2 linked regions of the Homo sapiens genome follow. The protein of the gene in region 2 interacts with the protein of the main gene of each other region in a pairwise test. Each region holds a gene or a part of one and is shown on either strand. Other genes may lie near its edges.

What was found.
Region 1: the proteins of MMP7 (region 2) and LGALS3 interact in binary tests that used the Homo sapiens proteins (3 or more experiments, as listed by UniProt).

Annotation. Positions count from the first base shown.
Region 1 is NC_000014.9:55,135,686-55,139,513, reverse strand, and holds part of LGALS3 (galectin-3), read right to left. Parts: intron 2,532-3,828; exon of another isoform or gene 2,145-2,531; coding exon of another isoform or gene 2,141-2,144; coding exon 2,123-2,140; exon of another isoform or gene 1,470-2,122; coding exon 1,146-1,469; intron 1-1,145. UniProt on the Homo sapiens protein: Galactose-specific lectin which binds IgE. May mediate with the alpha-3, beta-1 integrin the stimulation by CSPG4 of endothelial cells migration.
Region 2 is NC_000011.10:102,523,924-102,527,751, forward strand, and holds part of MMP7 (matrilysin preproprotein), read right to left. Parts: intron 3,750-3,828; coding exon 3,601-3,749; intron 1,142-3,600; coding exon 1,013-1,141; intron 1-1,012. UniProt on the Homo sapiens protein: Degrades casein, gelatins of types I, III, IV, and V, and fibronectin. Activates procollagenase.

The sequences.
Region 1 (3,828 bases), on a different chromosome or scaffold from region 2:
GGTGGGATTACAGGCATGAGCCACCACACCCAGCCTATCCAAATATTTTCTTTCTAGTCCTGGTGTGTACTAGTCCTGTACTTCCTCCCACCTAGATTTGCTGCTAGTGCCTCAAATTCAACAAGTGTGAACTAGAATGGTCTTCCCTACCCCCTCCCCCATCAGTTCCCCTTCATGAGTTCCCAGTTTGGGCTAAAGCTTTGCTGATGGCTCTAGTTGCTCAGCCTTGAAAAGTCAGAGTCCTCTATGACTCCTAAGACATAATCAGTAGATTCTGGGGGTTCTTCCTCTGTAATCTCTCTTACATCTGCCTGTTCCTTTCCACAGCCTTCATGTCTCCCTCTCTCTGCAACTGACTAACCATCTCTGGTATAGGCCCTCTCAATGCCACCCACTCCCCCAAGTCTTTCTACTCTAAACTGACCTAAAAGGAGACAATGCTACCTTGTGCTGTCTTCTGCATAGTCCTGAAATGGTCTAATCCCATACTGGTACTTAGCTCTTTCCTCATATTTATTATATGTTTTATCATCCAACTAGATTATAAATCTGGAAAGGAAGGATCCTGTGGCTGAGATGTATCTGGATCCCCCATGGAGTTATGTTTTACACTTAGAATTCACTTGCTATGACATATTTTAATTTGCGTGAAAATTCAACCCTTAGATCACAAAATTATCTTTAGAAGGTTTTTCAAAACCAGATTACCCTGGTTCCTCTACATGTTTGCTCAATGACCCTGGACAAATTATATCACTTCTCTATTGCCCCATTTCCCCATGTGTGAAATGGGGTTATTAACAGTATCTTATAGCGTGGTAATGGGGTTAAATGAGATTATCCATGTAGATGCATACTATTGACATGTACTCCGTAAGTGTTAATAATAACCAAAATGTTCTCCATTACTACAATCTTGATTTATATTCATAAGCAGTTTTATCAGTGCCTTCAAAATACTCATTACCTTCTGTTTATACTAACCACACACAATAAGCTCAATATGAACACTTAATTTTTTGACTCTACCAACATACACCCATGGCTGGCCCTTGAGAAGTGGCTCTAAGCAGCAGCTTTAAAGCTCAGGGTCTCCCTGAAGCCCTCTGCATGTCAAGTACATGAAAGAAGGAATGCCATCTCACCAGTGGCCCAGCAGGGGCGCCATAGGGGCCAGTGGCAGGGTAGGCTCCGGTGGCACTTGGCTGTCCAGAAGATGGGTAGGCCCCAGGGCCGCTGGGTGGCCCTGGGTAGACTCCAGGTGCAGGTGCTCCGGGATAAGCTCCAGGTGCTCCAGGGTAGGCGCCTGGAGGTGCCTGTCCAGGATAAGCCCCTGGGGGTGCCTGCCCGGGGTAGGCCCCAGGATAGGAAGCCCCTGGGTAGCCCCCTGCCCCAGCAGGCTGGTTCCCCCATGCGCCAGGCCATCCTTGAGGGTTTGGGTTTCCAGACCCAGATAACGCATCATGGAGCTGGAAAGAAAGACATACACAATTACGGGACAGAAAGCATTCTCAAAAGCAGAATTTTCAGGAAAATAGGAATATGTGATCTAAGAAGGAGAGGAATATGGCAAAGGCATTACATGCATATCATTAAACTTTTTCCACTTATTAATAGTTTGAGTTTCTAAGACTAAAATTAGATGTTGGGATTACATATACTTTTTCACTTTATTCTTGCCTCCCAACGTCTCAGATCAGGGAGGGCTGCATTTTCATAATTAGCTCAAGTCAGGAGTTAGCGCTCCTCTACTTATAGCACATACTTTTTCATCACCGTGAGAAAAACAATCACAAACATCAGAATGCCCAGACTGTACCGCACTTCCCGCTACTCAGAGGATTTCTCAGCTCCTGCCGGCAGAGTCCACTCCCTTCCGCCCTGGGCCTTTTGGTGAAAGGGTTACTGTGAGTGAGTCCCAGGCCTCGCTCTGCCTGGCTTTCTTCCCAAATCTGCTGCTGGAAAAACAAGGCTCCAGCTTGCAAGCCCTCATTGGACAAATGAGTCCAGGGGAAGCCACGCAGTGGGAGAGTGAAAAGGGAAAGTCATGGTAAAAACAAAACCCCCAACCCTCAACCATGTGGAGCTGATCAAGGGGAAGAAACAGGCATAAAACACTTACCGAAAAATTGTCTGCCATTTTCCTGAAAGAAACAAAGATTATCATTTTATCCTAAAAGCTTTCACCAATTTCCATTAAACTGAACCTCACCACTAGTTCATTGTGCAGTTCTAATCCATCTCTAGGCATTATGCCTAAGTCAGTAGTGTGGCGCCACAAAAACATCTCTTCAAGGGGCAGGGATGCTATCCAGCTAGATTGCCAAACCCTATTTAACTCACAAGTTTAAACTTCCGTCACACTAGCCTGTGCTCTGAATCTTACCCATCTGCCCTCTGTCCCCACTAACTGCCCCATCCCCTACTCTGGGTTTTTGAAGATAAGCAGTGATTGATTACTACTGAGACAGGAAAGACAATGACCTCCAGACATAGTTGCTGCCCTGCTATTTATTCCTCTATTTGCACACACTTATGCCTGCTCCTGGCCAGGCACTGCGCAGGCTCCTATCTAGGTGTGAAGATGAATAGGCCATGATCTGCATGGTCAAAGGGGCCACAGGATCTAAAACTCAAAACAATTGAGCCCACAGAGATATAGAATAGAAGGATGGTTACCAGAGGCTGGGAAAGGTAGTGAGGGAGGGTGGGAGGGAGGTGGGGATAGTTAATGGGTGACAAAAATAGTTATAATGAATGAATAAGGCCGGGTATTTGACAGCACAGCAGGGTGACTATAGTCAATAATTTCATTGTACGTTTGAAAATAACTAAAAGTATAACTGGATTGTTTGTAACACAAATAAATGAGAAGAGGGATACCCCATTTTCCATGATGTGATTATTAGGCATTGCATACCTGTGTCAAAACATCTAACGTATGCCATAAATATATATACCTGCTATGTACCCATAAAGATTAAGAATTAAAAAAAAATAAAAGCCGAAGGGCCTACAGTGCAGCAAGGCAGATGAGATGCATCCATGGAAATGTGAAATAACAAGTCACAGATGCTATGAGTCAGAATGTGTGCTGTAGGAATTCAAACCCAGAAAGCTTACTTCTAAGAAGGAAAGGAAAGGTGCTGTTGGAGCTAAGCCTCAAAGGGGAGCTGAAGTTTGTATGTGCTTTTTTTTTTTCAAAGGTACTTGTTATTCCAAATAAAATATTTGGCAGTACAACAAACTAAGGTGAAAAAATTCAGGCAACGTGACGTGAAGGAAAAAAATATTTGGGTCTAAGATGCTACCAAAGAGGGTTTGCCTAAGGGGTGGTCTGGAGACATCAGTCCTGCTTTCTCCTGTTCCTTCCCATGTCAAGGCTCCAAAAGCACAAGATGCTTCACAGCTGTTGTAGGTGCTCCAGCAGTGAGGGGAGGAGGGCAGCTGGGCCCCTGAGGCATGGGTGAGTTCTTCCTAAGCTCAGGATCACCTGTGCCATGGCCTGAATTACCTGGACCTTGAAACAACCAGAATATCCTTCTCTTTGATTTGCCCACCTGTGATATTTACTCAATCACTTTTAGAAATGGCATCGGCCCCAAGGGATCCAATAAATGTCCACTACTTGATTCAAATGCAAGATATTGGCTGGGTGTGGTGGCTCATGCCTGTAATCCCAGCACACTGGGAGGCCAAGGTGGGCAAATCGCTTGAGCCCAAGAGTTCAAGACTAGCCTGGGCAATATGGCAAAACCCTGTCTCTATGAAAAATACAAAAATTAGCCGGGTGTGGTGGCGCATGCCTGTGTTCCCAGCTACTCGAGG
Region 2 (3,828 bases):
GAGAAAGCGAAGATTGAAAGGCAGGGTCTCTAGGCAATGCTGGGCTTTGTTTTTGATTTTGATTCATTAACTTGTATTACATATATCCTTTGTTCTCCCTCATACTCATTGAAAGGCTTTGCAAGTATGTGGAAGGTGTGAGCCCGTGCGTTTGAGGAGTGGCCTGAGCTCTGGTGGCGTTGCATTGAATTGAAGGAAGCTGCCTTTAACCTACCTTAAGTGGGAAGAAAGAAGAATGAAAAGAATATGCCAGATGCAAATGGGAGGCAGCATCACAATTTAACATAGATTTTCACAGCAAGACAGCAAGCTATGGTGAATTCCTTTTGCCAAACACAAGTACAAATTTCCCTTTTAGGGCCAGTTGGTAGCCTTAAAAAAATTGTCTCTAATTGGGATTATTTATGCCAGAGCTCTTCTCCATTAGTTCTCTCATGTGCCTATAATATCCTACTATGTAAAATGATAAATATGATATACTAAATCATGGAGTTGGTTCTTTCTGGAAAATAGTGAATAATTCCAGAATTGCATATACTTCTCAAATATCATAGTTTCTACTTCTCTTTCTTTTCCATTTGGGGCATGTATTTTTTGGAAATATGAAGAAAGAGCTATAATTTAATTAATTATTAATACATTCCAAGCACTGTATAAGCATTATCTCATTTAATTTAAAGACTCCTTGATGTGGGAACTATTTATATTTCCATTCCACAGAGGAGGAAACTGAGGCTCAGAGAAATTCAATAACTTGCCCAATGACACAGAGTAATTGGTAGACGTACAGCAAATTGGATCAGTGGTGCTTGACTCCATAGCCTGAGTGTCCATCTTCTGTGTGTAGCATTATGAGTATATTACATGAAATAATGCATTTCAGGCATATAGTACAGTGTTTGGCACTTAGCAAGGGCTCAATACTTATTATAAATTAATATAATTATTTAACTTAGTGTAAGTCCAGGATTTTAAAACGGATGTGGAGTAGAAGAGACATGAGATGCTATACCTAGACTGCTACCATCCGTCCAGCGTTCATCCTCATCGAAGTGAGCATCTCCTCCGAGACCTGTCCCAGGCGCAAAGGCATGAGCCAGCGTGTTTCCTGGCCCATCAAATGGGTAGGAGTCCCCATGAGCTGAAAGAAAATGGAGTGATTGTTCTTAGTGACTGATTTTTTTTTTCTCCAGTCATTTTATTTTTCAGTTTATACGATTATTGAGGCTAGAAAAAGCAGCCCAGTCCAGGCCAGGCATGGTGGCTCACTTTGCGAGGCCGAGGTGGGCGGATCACCTGAGGTCAGGAGTTTGAGACCTGTCTGGCTAACATGGTGAAACCCCGTCTCTACTAAAAATACAAAAATTTGGACATGGTGGCACATGCCACCAAGTAGTAATCCCAGCTACTTGGGAGGCTGAGGCTGGAGAATTGCTTGAACTCAGGAGGCGGAAGTTGCAGTGAGCTGAGATCGCGCCACTGCACTCCAGCCTGGGTGACAACAGTGAAACTCCATCTCAAAAAATAAATTAAAAAAAAAAAAAAGGCAGCCCAGTGCAAGTAGCTGACATTGTTATGTGCTGTCGGTTGCACTCACAGGGTAGTTTGGGTGCTTTCTTGGCCCAGACACTTTTCCTTTCACAGAACCATTGCTCATCACTGATAATCACCATATATTGAAAGCTTACTGGATACAGGACTTAAAATGCAGTTATATCTAACTTAAGGTTGCATTTAAGCTTTTGTTAAATTTGACCACTTTGCTCGGCCAAAGGGTGGTGGGAGGGAGAATGAATATGAATACCACATTTGGCAAGTAATTTGTGCACCATTTCATAGGTTTTTTTTTTTTTTTTTCTTAAAAACCTAGCTTATTCTTCGTGGGCATAGTAAATAGTCTCTTAGAGAGCCATGCTCAAGATCTCTTAAAATGGCTTTTTATAGTCCTTTAATGTGTGATGCAGAGCTGGTTATCTTCGAGGTGATATGAGGCCAGTCCAGTTTATCTAGCTCTTAAAAAACTTGTAGTGCCATGATTAGTGCTTTCCCATAACATTTTCTTCGGTGTTGTCAATATTGTGGGTTGAAGTTCAAATTTCAGCTACAGTAGCCGGACCATTCCACATAGAACAGACTGAAATGGGCAACATTTTTCTCTAAATTTGCACCATGAAACACTAGCAATTAAGAACAATTTATGTATATGGGTTTTATATATACATATATACACACACACACATATATAACACATATACTAAAAAAATGGGTTTTACATATAGAAAAACCCACGTAAAAAAAAAAAATATATATATATATATTTTTTTTTTTTCTTTTGAGACATAGTCTTGCTCTGTTGCCCAGGCTGGAATACAGTGGTGTGACCTTGGCTCATTGCAACCTCTGCCTCCCAGGTTCAAGCGATTCTCATGCTTCAGCCTCCCAAGCAGCTGGAATTACAGGCATGCGTCACCATGCTCAGCTAATTTTTGTTTTAGTAGAGATGGGGTTTCACCCTATTGGCCAGGCTGGTCTTGAACTCCTGACCGCAGATGATCCACCTGCCTTGGCCTCCCGAAGTGCTGGGATTACAGGCGTGAGCCACCACACCCTGCTGTGTTATATATTTTTAAGTTCTTTAATATGAAAGTTTCCATTTCCTACTTCCTTGCCACATGAAAGGCATTAGCAACAGGTCATATACCACTTCTCAGGGGACTCTTGAGGCCTTTGGAAGCTGCGACTCTTTCTGTTGATTTAATATCGATGTTAGGTAGATATATTGTAAACATATAGTCATGTGCTACATAATGATCTTTCAGTAAACAGATCACATATACAATGGTCCTATAAGATTATAATGGAGCTGAAAAATTCCTATAGCCTAGTGATATAGTAGTTGTGATAATGTCATAGCTCAATACATTACCTTTTCAATGTTTAAATACGTTTAGACACACAAATACTTGCCACTGTGTTACAGTTGCCTACCGTATTCAGTATAGTAACATGCTGTATAGATTTACAGCCTAGGAGCAATAGGCTATACTATGTAGCCTAGGTGGATAGTGGGCTGTATCACCTGGGTTTGTGTAAGTGTATTCTATGATGTTAGCACAGTGACAAGATTGCCAAAGTTCTCATTCTCAGAGTGTATTCCCATTGTTAAGCAGTGCATGACTGTATATATAAATAATAATTCACGTTACAAAACAGGGGTTGGCAAACTTTTTCTGTAAAGGGTCAGATAACAAGTGTTTAAGCTTTGTGATCTCTGTCACAGTTGCAGCCTGAGCCCAAACAGTCATAGGTAATAGGGAAATGAAGGAGCCTGACTGTGTTCCAGTAAAACTTTATTTACAAAAACAGAAGGTGGGCTGGATTTGGCTCATGCATCATAGTTTGCCAACTGCTGCTATAAAAAGTGGCTCTATATTACCAGATTATAAAAATTATAATAATATTGCTAAATCTATCTATTAACTATCTATCTACCAATCATATCTCATTAAAGGATTTTAATCTTCATAAGAAAAGAGCACTGATATAAACCATGAACAAACAAAACAGGACACAGGATTAGCCTACAGGAATCTTTCTTACCTCCTCGCGCAAAGCCAATCATGATGTCAGCAGTTCCCCATACAACTTTCCTGAAATGCAGGGGGATCTCTTTGCCCCACATGTTTAAAGCCTTTGACACTAATCGATCCACTGTAATATGCGGTAAGTCTCGAGTATATGATACGATCCTAGTAGCAAACAAGAAAACAATGTTTGACCCCTAGGAAACAGGCTTTATTGTTTTTGCCAAAATGAGCCAGAGCAAAA